Homo sapiens: one gene and its partners. The protein of the gene in region 3 purifies or fractionates together with the protein of the main gene of each other region. This does not show direct contact. Each region holds a gene or a part of one and is shown on either strand. Other genes may lie near its edges.

Region 1 (6,490 bases), on a different chromosome or scaffold from region 3:
CGGGCTTCAACCCATGCCCTGGCTTCTCCGCTTAGCTCTGTTCGCCCCTGGCTTCTGCTCGCGTTCCCCTCCGGTGTTTGCTCTACACAGAGTTGACCTGGAGTTCACGGAGGTGATGAGATGGGGCATGCCAGCTCATTAAAGCTCATTAATTAGTCTGCTGGCAACCAGCCCAGTCAGCCCTGCCATCCCGCCCACCCCGGCACAAGCCAGGCAGGCACATGGCCAACTCTCTTCCTCTTCATGCCTCAGTTTCCCTTTTCTCACCCACCTGGTCACTGCAGACGTGCCCAAGCCAGCAGCAGGGCCTCCCCGCTTCATAAGCAAGGCTACTGATGGCGGCTAATGTTTACTGAGGACCTATGGCAGCCCCCCTGGGACCCCTCCTTACTGTAGGTCCCCCCCAACCCTTCCCTGCACTGTAGCCTCTGCAGGGACCCAGACCGGCCCTCAGGGGTCACCATCTGGTGGGGAGGGGGATGGAAGGTAGAGAAATGATCCCTGTTCCATAGGAGAGAGCCAGTGCTGGGTGGGTATTGATCTGTTGCTTTGGGGACCAAGCTGGCCAGGGTCCCCAAGTCCTCCATGGCCCATCCTCAGCTCTGGGAACCCCATGACTATCTGTTAGGAGGCTCCAAAAGGTTTATTAGATGCTCCTCCTTGTCCCCAGGAGCTGGGGGTGGGGGGTGGTGGCTGGACCTAGACAGGGACTCCTGGACTCTTACTTTCTAACCAGCCTGGCGCCCATGGGGTGGGGTTGGGCATTCTGGGAAAGGCTGGGCCTGGAGGCTTTGGAGGGGAGGGCCTGAGTGACCCCTTGATGACTTTTGTCTCCCTTTCCCGTTATTCTCCCTACCTGCCCCCCCCCACCTGCCCCCCACCCCATGTCTCTATGGGCACCTACTTGGCCCCTCATCCCCCCTCTTCCGGCCCTCTCCTCTCTACCCCTCGCTTCCCTTCCTGTCTCTCCAATCTCCTCTCCTCCCGGCCTTCTGTGCCCCGCCCTCCCCTCCCCCATCTCCTGTCCCTCCCCCGTTTCCTGCTGCCCGCCCCCCCCCCCCCCGCCTCCCCTCCCGCCCCCATGTCCCTCCTGTCCCCGCCTCCCGCAGCGGTGCAGCGCGGCCGCATCCCGCACTCGCTGCCTGGTGCCGTGGCCGCCTCCTCGGGCAGCCCCCCGGGCTCGGCGCTGGCGGCAGTGGCGAGCGGCGGAGACCTCTTCCCGGGGCAGCCGGTGTCCGAACTGATCGCGCAGCTGCTGCGCGCTGAGCCCTACCCTGCGGCGGCCGGACGCTTCGGCGCAGGGGGCGGCGCGGCGGGCGCGGTGCTGGGCATCGACAACGTGTGCGAGCTGGCGGCGCGGCTGCTCTTCAGCACCGTGGAGTGGGCGCGCCACGCGCCCTTCTTCCCCGAGCTGCCGGTGGCCGACCAGGTGGCGCTGCTGCGCCTGAGCTGGAGCGAGCTCTTCGTGCTGAACGCGGCGCAGGCGGCGCTGCCCCTGCACACGGCGCCGCTACTGGCCGCCGCCGGCCTCCACGCCGCGCCTATGGCCGCCGAGCGCGCCGTGGCTTTCATGGACCAGGTGCGCGCCTTCCAGGAGCAGGTGGACAAGCTGGGCCGCCTGCAGGTCGACTCGGCCGAGTATGGCTGCCTCAAGGCCATCGCGCTCTTCACGCCCGGTGAGCCACGCTCCGAAGAGGGCCGCGGGATGGGGGGACCCAAGGGAGGTTAGGAGGAGGGCGGCCTGGACCCAGACTCCGGCCCCCATAGCGCCCCGCTCGCTCCCTAGGCCTGGGGCCCTGCACGCGCCGTGAGTGAACGCTCTTGGGTGGCTGTAGAGGGGTGATGTAAGCAGTGTGACACTGTGACACCCCCACTCCGTGATCCCAGGACTCTCGGAGAACTCTGAACCCCGGACCCCAGACCCAAGGCTGGGCCAGGACCAGGGCCCAGACCCCAGAACCCTCTTCCTGTTCCCAGGCTCCCTGAGACCCCTACTCCCTCACCAAAGGGCTCTTCAGGCTTAGTGAGCACTGATAGCACAAGGTTGGGGGGACGTGGGAGGGAAGGTCCTGACCCCCTGGTTCTGGCCCCCTCAGGCCCCCACTGGGCTCCCAGGGCAACCTCCAGGTAGCCAGGGTTGTAGGGATCTGGGTAGGGGCGTGGCTCGGAGGCCCCTCCCGTTGAGGGGCGGGGCAACCCCAGAACTTTCTTAACCATCAGCTATCTAGCAGTGGTAGCCCATCGTATTCCAGCGACTGGCGGTACAGCCAAATTTTTTTTTTCCACTTTATTTTTTTATTTGTATTTCCATTTTTTGAGACTGGGTCTCACCCTGTCACCCAGGCTGGAGTGCAGTTGTCCGAACACGGTTCACTGCAGCCTTGATCTCCAGGGCTCAAGCAATCCTCCCTCACACTTCAGCCTCTTGAGTAGCTGGGACCACAGGCGTGCACCACCATTCCCGGCTAATTTTTTTTTAAACGTTTTCTGTAGAGACGTGGTCTCACCGTGTTGCCTAGGCTGGTCTTGAGCTTCTGGGCGCAACCAGTCCTGCCTCAGCCACCCAAAGTGCTAGGATTACAGGCATAAGCCACCATGCCTTTAGACAAAGATCTCTCCAGCCTGTCTCCTGGGAGTTCTTTAACCTACTGGAAGTCTCTAGATCCCATCAGAGGTATCTTTGGGGCTAGGAACCAGATCCAGGCTACTCTGGGAGGTGGCTTTCATTTGATAAATATGGTTTTGGGCCTGCAAGGTGGCTCAGGCCTGTAATCACCGCACTTTAGGAAGCAGAGTTGGGAGAACCACTTGAGCCCAGGAGTTCGAGGCTCCAGTGAGCTCTGATTTTCCCACTGCACTTGAGCCTGCGCAACAGAGTGAGACCGCGTCTCAAAAATCAATAAATATGGCTTTATTTATTGTTTTCCCAGAAGATTTTTTTTTTTTTTTTTTGAGACGGAGTCTTACTCCGTCGCCCAGGCTGGAGTGCAGTAGCACGATCTCGGCTCACTGCAACCTCCGCCTCCCTGGTTCAAGCTATTCTCCTGCCTCAGCCTCCTGAGTAGCTGGGATTACAGGCACGCGTCACCACGCCTGGCTAATTTTTGTGTTTTTAGTAGAGACGGGGTTTCATCATGTTGGTCAGGCTGATCTCGAACTCCTGACCTCATGATCTGCCCGCCTCAGCCTCCCAAAGTGCTGGGATTACAGGCGTGAGCCACCGCGCCTGGCCTTCCCAGATTTCTTCTTGGCTTCCTATCTTGGGTCTCTCTCTAGAGGCTGCCACATTCTCTCACACCGTAGGCCCTTCTGGGCTCTGTCTTCCTCATCAAATTCCCTTCCCAGCCCCACCTTCCCTGCGAGCTTCCTTAGAACCCATCTCCTTGGCCTGGCTGGTGGCCCTGTAATCCCAGCACTTTGGGAGGCCGAGGTGGGGAGATTGCTTGAGGTCAGGAGTTCAAGACCAGCCTGGCCAACACAGCAAAACCCGTCTCTACTAAAAATACAAAAATTAGCTAGGCGTGGTGGAGTGTGCCTGTAATGCCAGCTACTTGTGAGGCTGCGGCAGGAGAATCACTTGAACCCGGAGGCAGAGGTTGCAGTGAGATCGTGCCACTACACTTCAGCCTGGGCGACAGTGTGAGACTCTATCTTAAAGAAAAAAAAATTAGAACCTGTCTCCCTGCCAAAGGCATGAGTTGGGTGCCAGCCACCCTTGAAACATCACTGCCTGCACCCCTATGTCACTGGTTAGATGAGAACACCTCACTATCTCTGGAGGATCGACACAGTCTTAGATAGTCCCATTTGCATCCCAGGGTCGTTTTTTGTTTTGTTTTGTTTTGTTTTGTTTTGTTTTGTTTGAGACAGGGTCTTATTACTCTGTCGCCCAGGCTGTGCTATGATCATGGATCACTGTAGCCTCAAACTCCTAGGCTCAAGAGATCCTCCCACCTCAGCCTCTTGAGGAGCTGGGACTACAAGCGTGTGCCATCACACTGGACTAATTTTTATTTTTTATTTATTTTGAGACAGGGTCTCCCTCTGTTGCCCAGGCTGGAGTGCAGTGGCACGATCTCGGCTCACTGCAACCTCCGCCTCCCAGGCTCAAGCGATCCTCCCATTAGCCTTCCGAGTAGCTGGAACTGCAGGCACGCACTACCATGCCTGGCTAATTATTCTTATTTTTAGTAGAGACGGAATATCATCATGTTGGCCAGGCTGGTCTTGAACTCCTGACCTCAAGTGATCCACCTGCCTCAGCCTCCCAAAGTGCTGGGATTACAGGCGTGAGCTACTGTGCCCAGCCCCAGCTGATTTGTTTTTGCAGAGAAGGGATCATACTATGTTGCCCTGGCTGGTCTCAAATCCTGGCCTTAAATGATGCTTCTGCCTTGGCCTCCCAAAGTGCTGGGACTGTGGCCGTGAGCCATCATGCCCGGCCCCCTGTTCTTACCCACAGTGGCGAGTGGTGTCCCCTAGTCACCCCTGTGGGCTCTGTGTTCTCTAGCTGCCTCCCACCTGTCTGACTTGCCTTTGTCCCCCTAGACGCCTGTGGCCTCTCAGACCCGGCCCACGTTGAGAGCCTGCAGGAGAAGGCGCAGGTGGCCCTCACCGAGTATGTGCGGGCGCAGTACCCGTCCCAGCCCCAGCGCTTCGGGCGCCTGCTGCTGCGGCTCCCCGCCCTGCGCGCGGTCCCTGCCTCCCTCATCTCCCAGCTGTTCTTCATGCGCCTGGTGGGGAAGACGCCCATTGAGACACTGATCAGAGACATGCTGCTGTCGGGGAGTACCTTCAACTGGCCCTACGGCTCGGGCCAGTGACCATGACGGGGCCACGTGTGCTGTGGCCAGGCCTGCAGACAGACCTCAAGGGACAGGGAATGCTGAGGCCTCGAGGGGCCTCCCGGGGCCCAGGACTCTGGCTTCTCTCCTCAGACTTCTATTTTTTAAAGACTGTGAAATGTTTGTCTTTTCTGTTTTTTAAATGATCATGAAACCAAAAAGAGACTGATCATCCAGGCCTCAGCCTCATCCTCCCCAGGACCCCTGTCCAGGATGGAGGGTCCAATCCTAGGACAGCCTTGTTCCTCAGCACCCCTAGCATGAACTTGTGGGATGGTGGGGTTGGCTTCCCTGGCATGATGGACAAAGGCCTGGCGTCGGCCAGAGGGGCTGCTCCAGTGGGCAGGGGTAGCTAGCGTGTGCCAGGCAGATCCTCTGGACACGTAACCTATGTCAGACACTACATGATGACTCAAGGCCAATAATAAAGACATTTCCTACCTGCACAGCCTCCCTGGTCTTTATTTTTATTTTTTATTTTTGAGACGGAGTCCTACTTCGTCACCCAGGCTGGAGTGCAGTGGCGTGATCTTGGCTCACTGTAACCTCTGCCTCACAGGTTCAAGCGATTCTCCTGCCTCAGCCTCCCCAGTAGCTGGAACTACAGGCACCCACCACGATGCCCAGCTAATTTTATTTTTGGTAGAGATGGGGTTTCACCATGTTGACCAGGTTGGTCTCGAACTCCTGACCTCAGGTGATGCACCTGAGGCCTCCAAAAGTGGATTACAAGCGTGAGCCACTGTGCCTAGCCTCACTTACTTTCTTTTGGTCAACCTTAATCTTTTTTTTTTTTTTTTTTTTTTTTTTTGAGATGGAGTTTCGCTGTTTCACCTGGGCTGGAGTGCAGTGGTGCAATCTTGGCTCAGTGCAACCTCTGCCTCCCGAGTTGGAGCAATTCTCCTGCCTCAGCCTCCTGAGTAGTTGGGATTACAGGTGCGCACCACCACGTTCAGCTGATTTTTGTACCTTAACTAGAGGGGTTTTGCCATGTTGGCCAGGCTGGTCTCGAACTCCTGACAGGTGATCCACCTGCCTTGGCCTCCCAAAGTGGTGTGATTATAGGCATGAGCTGCCGGGCCCTTAATCTTGTTTGGGCTCCAATGTCCTTGGGAGAAACCTCTGGGGCCAGTCCTGTCACATGATGTAAGGCGAGCCAATCAGAGACCACCATTCCCTGGGCCACAGCAACTGGTTTATGGAGGCCCTGGGATGCCAAACTAGCCAGTGAGATTGCACGGTGGGATTTGGAACTGGGAGAATCTAATTAAAGCAGAGCCAAGGATGGAAGATCAATTTCCCAAGATGCCTTTGGAGCCCCAGATCAAGCCATACCTGAAACCCTTGGGTGTTTTAAGTTCTGTGAACTCAGTCTCCCCCCTTTTGTGCCTGAGTCAATCTGACTTCAGTTTTTTTTCTCACATGGAACTAAAAATCTGTTTCAGAGATTGACGTTTGGGAGTCAGGCACCTACAAGGCCAAGACTTTGAAATGTGGGCTTCACTGGGTTGATACGGAATCATGTGGGGTACCAGGGACTCTCCCGTCCCAGCCTCGGGAGTGTGTGGCACAGCTCTGTGGTGGGAAAGGCACCTGTGGAATTCAGCACCAGAGCTGTAGGGCAGAGAGAAAGGGCCCGAATGGTG
Region 2 (4,509 bases), on a different chromosome or scaffold from region 3:
GACAGGGCCCGGGTACCAGGGATTCAGGCAGTAGAGCAGCTGGACGCTGAAGAGGCACCCGGCCTCGCCCCGATTCCCGCGGGACCCTTCGAATTTTAGGAACTTTTCACTAACGAAACACACTTCTGTGTCAGCACCGACATCAAGAAGAGAACCTCACCAGCACCTCAGAACCCGCTTTGTCCCTCCCTGGTTCCTTCCCCTGGGTGCCTGGTGTGCTGCCGTCTCACCCATATGTAGTTGAGCGCAGCAGCCCCTGTAGGACACCTGGCAGATCAGGTCACAGTCCTGCTGTGCCCTCGGGCTCACTCGGGAGCTGGGGGCTCCCAGGTGCTCCTCCAGCAGCTCAGTTCAGCATGCTGGGGGGTCAGGGCCAGCCCCTGTCCCTGGGGCCTCAGGCCTCCCTTTCTTCCCACAGTGGCCAAGATCGCGGGTCTCTACAATGACTTGGAGCCACCCCGGAAGACCATGCGCAGAGGGGTGCTGATGACCCTGCTGCAGCAGTCGGCCATGACCCTGCCCCTGTGGATTGGGAAGCCTGGTGACAAGTGAGGGCAGCAGCTGCGAGGAAGGGGCTGGTGCCCAGGGGCTGGGACTGATCCTTTGTTCCACTCACAGGCCCCCACCCCTCTGTGGGGCCATCCCTGCCTCAGGAGACTACGTGGCCAGACCTGGAGACAAGGTGGCTGCCCGGGTGAAGGCCGTGGATGGGGATGAGCAGTGGATCCTGGCCGAGGTGGTCAGTTACAGCCATGCCACCAACAAGTGAGTGACACCAGCCCCGGGGCTGCTCTCTGCCCTTCCTGTCCACCTGCCCCACAGCCCCAGGAGGACTATTCTATCCTGTTTGAAGACACCTCCTATGCAGACGGCTACTCCCCTCATCTCAGTGTGGCCCAGAGGTACCTGGTAGCTTCTAAGGAGCCCAAGAAAAAGTGACGCTGCCCGGCGGACTCGACGTCCTCCACCATCTTGGGGCAGGACAGCAGAGGATGTGCTGGGATTAAACAGACATCCCCCCTCCACACATCTCCTGGGTTTTACTTCTCCAAACCCTTCTCCCCTCCCCAGATATGGTGACCTGGGGAGCTGAAGGCTGGGGGAGAGGTGACCATATGTGGCCCCACCGGGCATTCACTCTTTCAGCTCAGAGTTTCTCTTCCTTTCCAATACAGGCTCTACATGAACACAAATCATATTTTATTTTAATTGAGCTTTATTTTCTTTGGAGGGAGGGTCTTGCTTGTCATCCAGGCTGTAGTGAATGGGCATGTCATAACTCACTGTATCCACAACCTCCTGGGCTGAAATGATCCTCCAGCCTCTGCTTCCCAAGTAGCTGGGACTACAGGTAAGTGCCAGCACATGTGGCTAATTTTTTTACATCTTTGTAGAGATGAGGTCTCACTATTTTACCAGGCTGGTCTCAAATTCGTGGCCTATTGTGATCCTACCAGCTCAACCTCCCAAATCGCTGGGATTGCAGACATGAGCCACTGTGCCTGACTCAAAAATCATACTTTATTCTTGAGCCCATTGGTCAGGGTAGATTCGCACACTCCCTCTGCAGTGACTCCAGGAGCCCCTCTCACAGCTCAGAGCGGAAGCTGAGGCTGCAGCCTGCCATCTTCTCCGCATAGTCCGCATCGAAGCGCTCATTCTGCGCCACGGTGAAGGTGGTCTTCCAGTCCCCAGCCATGCCTGGGGGAGGAAGGCAGGGAGCAAAGCTGGAGTCTCATCCCAGGGGAGGCCCCAAGTGCCTATGGGGAGGCTGCAGCTGCTGCTCCCACCCGCCCCAAACCCCCGTGCTGGCCAGCACCCACCTTTCCTCATGAAGGGGGAGATGCTGTGGTCCATGAGCTCCTGGGGGACGGTGGTGTAGTTGGTCATAGGGTTCTTCTTCATCTCCTTGAACGACGTGTGCTGAACCATGAAGTCCATGGTCTCCTCTGGCAGGGAGCGCCCCACAAACTCCAGGATCTTTTGAATCTCCCTTTTGGGGTTCTGAGCAGCAGAGGGCTCCTCAGTGGAGCAAAACAAAACGGGTCCCCCTCTCTAACCTCAGAGGGGATCTGGCCACTTCCCCTAGAAACCCCAAAGAGCCTCAACCCCTGGGGCCCTAGTCTCTGGAGTAAAATGAATTGATCTCTGCCCTGTGATCCCATCATGAACAGGGCTTGGCGCCTATGGGTGAGGACCGGGATGGTCTTCTTCCATGACTGTGGCCCTGGGTGGCACACCCTTTGGTGAGGATAAGCAATAGGACTAAGTATCTGATCCGTGGCCACCCATGCAGCTGACTCAGGTGCAGAAGATGAAAGCTGTGCCGAGCCTGCTGCCAGGTGGGGCTGCAGTGGGGGGGCCTGGGCCAGGGAGGTAGGATGGGGAATCCGGGCTTGCTGTGGGAGCCGCCCAGGGACGGGGCTGGGTGGCCTTGGTGGGTCCCTGTGAGGTGCCTGCCCCCAGGTGTCACATGGGGGGAAGCATCACAGTCGGTCTCACCTCCTTCATGTCTTCATAGAAGAGGTAGAGAACAGGGTGGGTGCGGCTCAGCTCCCACCACTCCTGCACGTGCTGGTACCAGGACCCGTAGGACACTAGAGAAGCGGGCAGGGGGCACCGACACAGGGTTGCTGTACGTTATAGCCACCACCCCTCGGCTTCACACCCTCCTTCCTCCAGTCAAGCCCACCTTCTCCAGCCATGAACTTTTCCAGGAAGCTGTCCCAGGTCCCAGGCTCAGGGTGCGCCTTTTCCATACGGTGGAAATGGTAGTAGGAGACCGCCACGTCCTTTGGGTTTCGGGCAACATAGACCACCTGCAGGGGCAGAGGACCCAGCCCCAGCACCATCACCACACAGCCCACCCCAGGCCAGCTCATCTGTTGAACTGGCAAAGGAGGAACCTGAGGCTTAGAGGCTGACTTGCTTGAGATCTCACTGCACAGGTAGGGCCAAGCTGGGATCTGAACCCTGCTCGGAAGCCAAAGTCCTGCCTGGTTCCTGAGACCATATTCTATACTAATATAATCTGCACCAATGCCATCATATCCTGATCTGGAGCAAGGCATGCCTGGTCCCCACCAGCTCCCCCTCCTCCGCTGACCTGTGAGCACCCACATGCTGCCTTTCTTAAGTGTGCACTGTAGAGACTCACTATCCTTGCATCAGACCCTCATCAGAGCAAGAGGCAGACAGTGTCCTCTCTCAAGATGTGATGAAGGCTGGGCGTGGTGGCTCATGCCTCTAATCCCGGCACTTTGGGAGGCCAAGGTGGCCAGATCACCTGAGGTCAGGAGTTCAAGACCAGCCTGACCAACATGGTGAAACCCCATCTCTACTAAAAATACAAAATTAGCCGGGCGTGGTGGCAGGTACCTGTAATCCCAGCTCCTTGGGAGGCTGAAGCAGGAGAATTGCTTGAACCCAGGAGGCGGTGGTTGCAGTGAACCGAGATCACACGATTGCGCTCTAGCCTCGGCAACAAGAGTGAAACTGTCTCAAAAAAAAAAAGGGCCAGGCGCGGTGGCTCACGCCTGTAATTCCAGCACTTTGTGAGGTCGAGGCAGGAGGATCACAAGGTCAAGAGTTTGAGATCCACTTGACCAACATGGTGAAACCCCGTCTCTACTAAAAAGAATACAAAAATTAGCCGGGTGTGGTAGCACACGCCTGTAATCCCAGCTACTCAGGAGGCTGAGGCAGGAGAATCACTTGAACTGGGGAGGCGGAGGTTGCAGTGAGCTGAGATCATGCCACTGCACTCCAGCCAGGGTGACAGAGCAAGACTCTGTCTCAAAAAAAAAAAAAGATGTGATGAGCCTGGCAGAAGCGAGGAGGCCCTTCCAGAAGAACAGGTACATGGCTGAGAGGGCACCTGAGCCCCCCTTCCTGGCTTTCCTTGCCAGTCAGTGGGAACTTTTTTTTTCGTAGAGATGGTTTTGCTGTGTTGCCCAGGCTGGAGTGCAGCAGCAGGATCATCAGGGCTCATTGCAGCTTCCTATTTGCATAAACAGTCCTCCCCGCTGAGCCTCCTAAGTAACTGGGAACAGTCTATGCCACCATACCAGGTTGTTAATTTTATTTTTGTAGAGATGGGATGTCATCTCTACAGCAATGTTGCCCAGGCTGGTCTCCATCTCTCGCCTTCAAGGGATCCTCCCTCCTCAGTCTCAAACTGGGATGACAGGTGTGAACCATTGAGCCCGGCCTCACCTTGACCTTCTGATCCAACAGAGTCTGAGGGAGCAGAGCCAGGGGCAGGTGTGACTTGATGAGCCGTGGGGGCGGTGTGTCTTTCAGAGTCTCCAGCCCTGAGTAGTGGGTCAGGGAAGGTCTGGTGAGCTGAAGCCCCAGCCCTGTCTTCCTCCACTTCCCTTACCCCCAGGACCCAGCCATGCACCTGAGGGTTCCCCTGGATCATTGACCTCAAGGAAGGGCACCCGTACGTAGATGGGAGCCCGGTTACACTTCTCTAGGTCGCCGCCCTGGTAGATCATGTCCAGTATC
Region 3 (8,953 bases):
ATACCATATATATTATCATAAAATCTATTTATCAAGTGGTATCTTTTGGGCACTATATGTCATTATATATCATTTCATTTAATGCTCACAACCATATTAAAGGGTCATTAAACCTATTTTACAGATGAGAAGACAGGTTCAACAATTTTTCCATCATCACCCAGCCACGCCAGTAACTGGCAGGATCAGTATTTGTATACAGATCGCTGATTTCAGACCATATTCTCAGCTACCATGTGTATATTGTCCTCATTCCCCAGCCCAAGCTGTGCCTTTTGCACTCAATCCTGGTTAATTACAGATAGCGCTTGATGTTTTTGTTTTAACCACAGATAGAGATAGGAAGTCTAAGAAACTGACTGGGGTACAGAGAACCTAGGTCCAGCTCATGTGGAGGAAGGCCACTGTGATTCCACAGACAGCAACCAGTCAGCACTCAGCTCACAAGATTCCATCCCCGCCTTGGGACTGCCACTCCCGTGGAGTAACTGGAGGTGGATGAGACACTCCTAGGCTGTTTATAATCTTGAAAGGCACTAAACCGGGACACTTGCCAACCCTGACAAACCAAAATCCCACCTAGAAAAGTTTCCATGACTCTTTGCTGCTCATAGCTCCATGAGGAAGAAAGGACAAGATTTAGCAATGACTTTATTTATTCATTTGTATACACTCCACTGCTTTTCAAATGAATTGGCAGTTTAAAATTAAAAACCCAGAATCAATGAAAAAATTATTAATGATAACAGCTAACATTTATTGAGCATAGACTATGTATGTATAAGCATTAACATGTAATACTGTTTCATCCTTCTATCCTCCACAGCCTTTTGAGATAGGCATTACTTTTATGGTCCGGATCTTACAGATAGAAAAATAAAACATAAGGAAGTTAGAGTATGTATTCACAGTTGGTTATACAGCTAGTCAGTGGTGCAAGCAAATGTTAAACCCGGTAATCTGATTCCACAGGTGATATTGACCACTATGCTAACCTGCCTCCACAGAACCAGGGTAAAAGAACAAGTGCAGTGTAAGATTCAAGGGGTGTTAACAACAGAAGGCGCAGATAAGGAAAGTGGCTAAAACTGAAAACAAGGCTTGATTTGAGTTCCCTAGTCGTCAATCCTTAAAGAAAAACATGAAGAATTAACCTGAGTAGGGTATCCTATTGTCCTATGGCATTCCAATAACACGGGGATTTCAATGCTAAAACTGAAATGGCTGGATACCCTACTAATAAAGTTTTGTAACATTTGATTAGGCCTCAGATTATGAAACACATACAAAATCTTTATGGTGTTTTCAGACCTACATTGGCTCCTTCAGCACCTCCTCCCACCATCATTAAAAATACTAAATAATTTTTCTTATCATTCTGCTTGGGAAAGATGAAGGGGTTGTGGAAAAATGAAACCCTGTTAATTGCTGGGCTTCAATCATCACATCTATTAGTATGCTCAAGAGTCTGGGTAAGTGAGGCACACAAATTCTAGGTTAAATTTTGCTCTGCCAACTCCAGCTGTGCTTTAATTTTCTTTCCCAAGGTCATACAGGATTGCTTTCTAAAAAAAAAAAACTTCCCTCCATAACAAGCAGAGATTCAAGCCAGTCATTCTTAGAGAGCTTGGTGGTAATCTTGTCAGAACTCAGAGATGAAAACTAAACCAATGCTTCTTAAAGCTGTTTGAAACATCAGCTCTGAAATCAGCAATGAGCTTCATGAAGATGGGGACTGGGTCTTATTTATTTTTGTTTCCTTAATAGCATCGCCTTGCAAATAAACATTGTCTTAACTGCAATCTTAATCTTAGCAAGTCAGAGCTAAAAAGATCCTTAACCATCATTTGGTGCAAATATTTACAGATGAGTAAACTGAGACTTGGAAAAGAAAATTTGTTAGTCACAAAGCTGAGCTGAGACTAATTGAATTAAATGGGAAGTGAGCTCTTCCTAATTAAGGTGAAAAACCCCAACTACCATCACAAGGCTGTAGAAAAGAAAGTAAGACATCATTAAAGGGATAGGGTTTTTAACTATAATCCAAGTGATCTGTCAGGGGTCTTCAGAAATCTCAAGTGTAAGTGAAAAAAGGAAGCAAATAATTTAACAATCCCATGCAAAATAAATGAGCAACTACGCAAGTGGAAAAGACAAAATATCTTTACCTCGGGGAGAGGAGCAAAGTTCTGCCATGACATGTTGAAATTTTCAGAAAAACTGAAGACATTTTAGACTAAATATTTTATAGATATTTTCTAGCCAATTAAAGTTTCTAATTAGATTAAGGCCAATTTTTGTTTCTTAACATAACAGAAATATGACATGATTAAATCCAACCAAGATCCCTGACCACCTACCATAGGTCAGTCACTGTGTGAGGCCATCAGGCCTACAAAACAATGGCATGTTCTCAAGCAAGAAAGAGTAAAGCCAGGGAAAAGGTAAGCCAGCCTCCTGACAACACGTACCATCATGAAAACATTCAAAATGTCAAGAACTGACAGAAAAATTCCAGTGAAAATCTCCAAGCATCAATCTATTCTCTCTATTCAATGCATAATCAAATCAATGGATCAATTGACCAGTGTTTTTGAGCATCTGTCACCTGCTCAGAAGAACAAGCCTTTCTTTAAGAAGTAAAAAATTAAAAGAATAAGAGACAGATAGGCAGATAGATAGATACAGATAGGTAGATAGGTAGGTAGGTAGACAGAGAAACAGACAGATTAAGAAAAATAATAATGGAGGTGGTATAAAGTGTTGCCAAGTAACTTGGGCAGGCATGATCATTTTGGATTGGAAACGGATAGGTAGAAAAGGCTTAAGTGGAGGAACCTAAACTAGCTTTGAGGCATTTGATGAGCAGAGCGTAAATGTGTTACGCTCTGTAAGAAACAGTGATGGCAATGGCACCAAGATGGAAGGTGCTAAGATGTGTTCAGATGACAGGGAGCCAAACTGTGTGGCTGAAGCAGAGGGTTCAGATGGGAAGCCCTTATTGGCAATAAAAGTGAAAAGGTACACTGGAACTAGCCTGTAGAAGAATCCTCTATTCCAAGATCAGGAGTCTGGTGAAAGCACTACACAGCTGTCTAGGTTGCCCCATTTTCAAGCCATTTTTTTCAAAAGAGGTATAATTTGATCCTTCAAATTTGTTATGGCTAGATAAAAGCAGATCAACTTTAAAGTTACATGATTTTTAAAATATCTCTGTGCATTCACAGTTCGCCAGTGGAATCTTGAGGCCAAGAACAAGTGAGCAGATGTCTGCAGACTTGAGAACTAAGCTGAGGTTCCCCAGCAGTCATTTTCCAAGGAATCTGGGCAAAACACACTTTGTTTTGCTTGAATGGAAACAGCATCTACAAAGTTCCTTGTAGTTCTTTAATACAAAAACATAACACCAGCAAAACAGAACTGAAGCTATTCTAAAGTATGGCTTACACAAATATTGTAACATATTTGAAGAAAAACAAGTAAATAGAAACAGTAGAATAAAAAGAATATTTGAATTAAACAGATATTTATTGTTCAGAAAAGCTATTTTAACAAAGAAAAACTTTATCCATTTTTCCTTAAAATCATGTTAGCGATCCTTCATAATCATGAATATATTCTCATTTAAAGAACGTATAAAGTTCTTTCAAATAGTTTAGCAGTAACCACTTACAAGGATTGTCTTTTCCTTTTTTTTTTTTTTTTGGTCACTCAAGCATGCTGCTTTAAAACGGCTGCTTTGCAGAAATCTCATCATAGGTAACTGACTCGCTCTCCAGAATATACTTGCAAAGCAACATCCTAGTATTTACACTAATATCCAGGCAGTCAATGGAAAGACCCTTTTGTTTGGTTAGCGTTTGTAAATTCCAGGGTGGGGGGGTGTGTGTATTTGGGGTGTCCTACTATTTTTTTTTAAATGCTCATGTAAAACAATTCCTAAAAAAAGAGCTTGTGACTTGGACATGCCCCGAGTTCAATTCTTCCAGGAGTGGTAAAAACAGTCAACAGAGCTCTAACCTCCTTTCTATCTTGACTATACAATAGTTTTCAAAGAGGTTTAGTCCTACTATGAAAGACTCATGTTAGACATTGGAAGGGTCTCATAGAGAATGAGCACCAGGCCTTGAATAAACAAGAGAGATGGTGACCTTTTGCTCCCTTCTTCTGAAAGCCCAGCACATCCTGTAGCAGAGGACCAGAAAAAAGTTGATGTGCAACCAGGTGCTGCAAAATCCTTGCCTCTGGGTTTCTGCCACACTTTGCTCCTTAAACAGTTTAAACCTCAACATGACTTAAATAGTATTAGGGAGTGAGAGGAAAGTACAATTCCTGGAACCAACTGTTCCACTGTCCCTTATTCCTTTGTTCCCCATATTGTTTGAGTCCTGTAGCATGCAGCACACGTTTCACTAGCAACAGGCAAGACAATGGATCTAGCAGTAGCTGGACAATTAGTCCCAATTAGGCCTATTTCCCAGCTGAATGTAAAGGGCTAGTGGGGTGAGGTGTGGGAAAAAAAAAAAAAACTACAGAAATTTTAAAGAAATATTTCAGAATGGAGGCAAGCAATACAATGTAAAGCAAATTGAACTAGGGGTCAGGAGTCTCAGGCAAATTCGCTGTGTGGCAAATACTTTAACCTCTCTGTTCTTTTCCGTTCTTATCTATAAATAGGGGCAACCAACCACCAGTCCTCAGAGGCTCTGAAAATCTAATTTCAATTGTGGTTGAAAGTGCTCTGAAAATTTGAAATGTTACACAGATGTATGGGATTCCTCCTGAGCTGTATTTGAAACCACAGATATCCATCTGATTTGTAAATCATTTACCTTTTAGTCTCCCTAGCAGAAGTTAATAGTGAATGCTTTTCTTTTTTTTCTTTTTATTTTCTTGATTGCTAATTTTGTTAAGTTCATAAGCGATACTTACATATGTACATGTGGAGGCTGGAATCTGCTCTGGTTGATGTTGTAGTGCGTGAATGCCTGGGTGGGGTTTGAGCTGTACTCATCCACCGTTATGGTAACTTTGCCTTGAGAAGGAATCCCATGTGCCATCCTTCCTCCCTATAGGCATGAGCAATTCACAACTTTACAGAGCAAAAGATGGAAGCAGGCATGGTGCGTTTCAGCCAACCTCTGAATCCAAGGATCTACTCATCAATACCGCTGTGCATTTCTGAAAGAAAAAAAAAATGTATATAAAATGAGAACAAAGAGAAAAAGGGTGTTCTAAGAGACATAAATTTAACATCTAGACATGAAACTAGTTCAGGGAAAATCTGAATATGTGTTGTTGGCTCATGGATACAACTGTTCCCAACTCTCTTCCCTTCATGCACTTCAAAGTGGATATTACACTCTATACATATTGCTGGGTGCTAGCAAATCTTCTCAATGGAGTTCAAACTAAGATTTCCTCTTTAATTATAATTATGGCACTTAGCGTGAATTACGGAAGGGGCATATCCACCGTTGCCATGGCATCTGGCTATACATGGTTTGTGCTCCAAGTGAAGAATCTTCCAAACCTGCCCTGCTAATTGGAATGTTTGGTCTTTACAAAGTTGGTGTCACGTAATCATTTGAAAGCTCCATGTTTAAAGCAGCTATATAACACAATGACAGATAAGAATTTAAAATGTTGTGCTTATAACAAATACATGTGTATTACTATAACATGCACATAATAACCACACATTACACATATTTTTTTCTTTCACAAGCAGCTCCCAAAATACACAGGTAGGCAATGCTTGGCATTCCTCACTGGCCCAGAACCTTATGGTAAGGCAAATCTTTCTTGTTAAATGTAGTGTCATTTTTTTCAACACTCCAGTCACTCAGGGGAAAACCAAACACCTCCAGGTCTGGACCACCACTTTGAATGCATTCATTACCTCCCTTCTTCAAGCCCCGATGGAGCGGTAAAGAAGGGCGGCCATTACATCTGCCACCTCATTCTTGGTGCAACGTAATTCTCAGTAATTGGTTTCATTTTTTAAAATTTCCATTAGTTCTGATTTTTTCATAAATGTCAATATATTATTTGCTGCACTGGGTTGAGAAATGAAGATGTCTATTTTTATGGTAGGTGTGCAAAGGCTGAGGGAAGCAAATTCTCATGTCCAAGTTGTTGCAATTGATCAGTGCGGTAGAGAAGAAGCCGTAGTACACTCCTTGGGTAACCCTTAGGTAACCCATGCTCTTACTTTAAGTGCACAACGTCAGAATAGGTTTGCCATGTGCACCATTAAGCTCTGAGAATCTTATCTGCTATTTCAAATAAAAATATTTAGAATAATAAGATGAGATTTAAAATTGGCATGAAACACCTTAAATATCGAGCAAAAGGCAGATGGCCTGCCATAGGCCATTTATTTTATTATTTTACAACCCGGGGCTTGAGTAATCCCCCATATGCTAGCTGGGCTAAGAAATTCCAGAGTGTTCTACTCAAATCATTGCCTTCTTCATATTAGCAAAGCAAGCTAAATAACACCCACCTTGCCTGCCTTCCTAATGTCAAGTGCACTGCCAAGAGATGAATCCCCGTGCTCTGGCATTTTAAACAAAGTGTCACTTTGGGTTCTCTTTCTTTTTCCTGACTTCATGGGAGGTATGAGTCTTTTAAGCGCCAGATGATAGACAACCAGGCCAGTAGGATTAACTAAATTAAAATCTTTCCCTGCTCCTCTGATGTAAGATATCTATAAGAACTGCTTACAAATCATAATGTAGCAGTTTTCATACCAAGTTTGCAGCTGTTTCCTTAATTTCTCCCACAATTATATTTTACTGTTATTTTGCATAACAGTAAAACACAACACCTGCTTCAAATTGCAGTCCTGTTCTAAGTACTGTAATTCTCTTTTGAGACACAAAGTACCGAGACACTACTGAAGCGCAAAACTGCATAATTGCGTCGCGCTGAAAAGTAAATACAAATGAAAACATCTTCCTGTTATAGAAATGACTGTCATTAAAAAGAATGTTAGCCATCAAAGCACAGAGGGGGAAAAATTCACATTTTCAGACTGTGAGAAGTTAGTGTTTGCATAAATTAGAGAGTGGTGTAAAAATTACTTGACAATTCTTATGTTCATTCTTCCATCAATGTCTATTGTGTGAAATACTGAACATTAAGAAGCAAAGGAAATCAAATTCATGTCTAGACCGCTGTGACCTCTGAGTAACAATCTCTGCACCCAGTACTAGAAAGATTTTAAATGTTTCTGGAGTAAACACACTAATTAAACCAAGCAAATGTGGCCTAGAAATAAAATATACATACCTAATATTTAAACATCTAGGTAATGACTTGTAGCAGTTAGCATGATACCCACCCAAGTTCTACTATTTGAAGCTAAGAAGAGACAGAATTTAGCAGCTGATCAATTTGCACTTCTACATGGTCCGCTTGATCCTAATGTCAACCTTCTCTATCACTGAACATCTATGCCTCTTTGCACCTTTGCCCCAGTAAGACAAATAGAACATCTTTTCATCAGCAAGCACAGGCCCCTGTAACTCTGAAAGGCTAAATGGGTGGCTGGCACCTCATTTGAATTCATCTTTGCCATGTTCCCTTTCAAATGTTTCATCGAAACAGTGCACCTGCAGCGTCTATCTTCTTTAATCTGGAGTCCTTTGAAGAAAATGTCAGACTGAGGCAGAGAGCTTCAAAACTTTCACAGCACCTTTACAGACAAGTCAAGAAAAGGCTTATTTTTTAAAATGCTATGTTCATCCCCACCCGTATCTCAAAATGAACACATCTTAAGAATTTTAAACACAAACACCTGGAAAAGACTTTTTCTTTTTTTTTTTTTTTTTTTTTTTTTTTTTTTGGTAAACTCTCAGAGACAAGGGACAATAGACAAAACCACTTCCTATAACCTGAGAAATTTGGAGAGAGCTTGAAACAAGACAGAAGGATACACTGCTTACAACTATCAAGAAGATGTATATTTAGGCAGTAAAACCTTCCAAATGATCAGATTTTCGTGCATCTCACCCTCTTCACACTTACTTTAACTTTTTACACACAATATTTAAAGACAGCACTATTCTTTTCATAAATTTTCATTTTATACTTCAACACACTTTCCACAAAACAAAGGAACCCAGGACGAAATATCAAGAAGCCGAAAGAAAAATCTAAAAGGGACTGACACTGCCAAACATTCATGCTGGTGCTAGTTTGATTTTTCTCTTTAAAAAGAAAATCATGTGAGTACATTTTGCATTTCCTAGACAGCAATCACTTCTGTCCTTTAAGCTGTACAACTAGCAATATTCTTTTCCAGGAATCTAGTTGGAAAACCTTTTAAAGTCGGCTGGCAATGAAGGGATTAAAAGCTGAGGAATTAAATAACTGTCTCCACCTCCTAGACACCAGAAGTCCAATTTACCAAAACTTTCAAAGCAACAACTCATGACCTCTCTACCCCTGCACTGCCCAGCACAGCCTATGAGAAAAGAGCCCGCGGTTTTCTCGTTTCAACAAGGATGCTCATTTTAATCACTTGCCCCAAGATCTCCAGACCGAGCCTGGCGGGACTTTGGAACTTGCCTGCTCCAAATCCGCCAAATTTCGCTCTCTCCTCCCTCTGCCGCGCAGATCCAGTGCGTTCTTAATTCACGCCCCTACTCTTTTATGCCCACTTCCAGTTACTCATCCCTGTATCTGGGAGCGATGCCCACACGCCTTCCCGGCGGGCTTCTCCGCCAGGGTTTTTTTGGGGGAGGCTGACATAAAGTTCCACGTGCTTCTGTCCACCGAGCGCCCTCCCTCCCACCGCACTTACACCTGAACTTGTCTCCAGCACTGCGGACACCCGGGTGACACATTCTTTCGGAGAGGGAGGGCAAGACTTTTCTCCGGAGCCTCTGGCAACTCGTGGAGTCTATATAAGGTGGGGCGGTGGGGGGCGCGGAATTCTCTACTT

What was found. Proteins that work in one complex are often made in the same cells at the same time.
Region 1: the proteins of MPPED2 (region 3) and NR2F6 purify together in Homo sapiens (affinity purification with mass spectrometry; 3 studies listed by BioGRID and IntAct, with this or other methods). This does not show direct contact.
Region 2: the proteins of MPPED2 (region 3) and SULT1A3 purify together in Homo sapiens (affinity purification with mass spectrometry, with the first as the bait; 2 studies listed by BioGRID). This does not show direct contact.

What each region holds. Positions count from the first base shown.
Region 1 is NC_000019.10:17,230,685-17,237,174, reverse strand, and holds the end of NR2F6 (nuclear receptor subfamily 2 group F member 6), read left to right. Parts: intron 1-1,109; coding exon 1,110-1,676; intron 1,677-4,548; coding exon 4,549-4,823; 3' UTR 4,824-5,292; downstream 5,293-6,490. UniProt on the Homo sapiens protein: Transcription factor predominantly involved in transcriptional repression.
Region 2 is NC_000016.10:30,201,000-30,205,508, reverse strand, and holds the end of SULT1A3 (sulfotransferase 1A3), read right to left. Parts: coding exon 4,403-4,509; intron 4,314-4,402; coding exon 4,216-4,313; intron 2,820-4,215; coding exon 2,693-2,819; intron 2,598-2,692; coding exon 2,503-2,597; intron 2,005-2,502; coding exon 1,824-2,004; intron 1,702-1,823; coding exon 1,589-1,701; 3' UTR 1,199-1,588; downstream 1-1,198. UniProt on the Homo sapiens protein: Sulfotransferase that utilizes 3'-phospho-5'-adenylyl sulfate (PAPS) as sulfonate donor to catalyze the sulfate conjugation of phenolic monoamines (neurotransmitters such as dopamine, (R)-adrenaline/epinephrine, (R)-noradrenaline/norepinephrine and serotonin) and phenolic and catechol drugs.
Region 3 is NC_000011.10:30,575,314-30,584,266, forward strand, and holds part of MPPED2 (metallophosphoesterase MPPED2), read right to left. Parts: intron 8,921-8,953; exon of another isoform or gene 7,562-8,920; intron 5,182-7,561; 5' UTR 5,061-5,181; coding exon 4,933-5,060; intron 1-4,932. UniProt on the Homo sapiens protein: Displays low metallophosphoesterase activity (in vitro). May play a role in the development of the nervous system.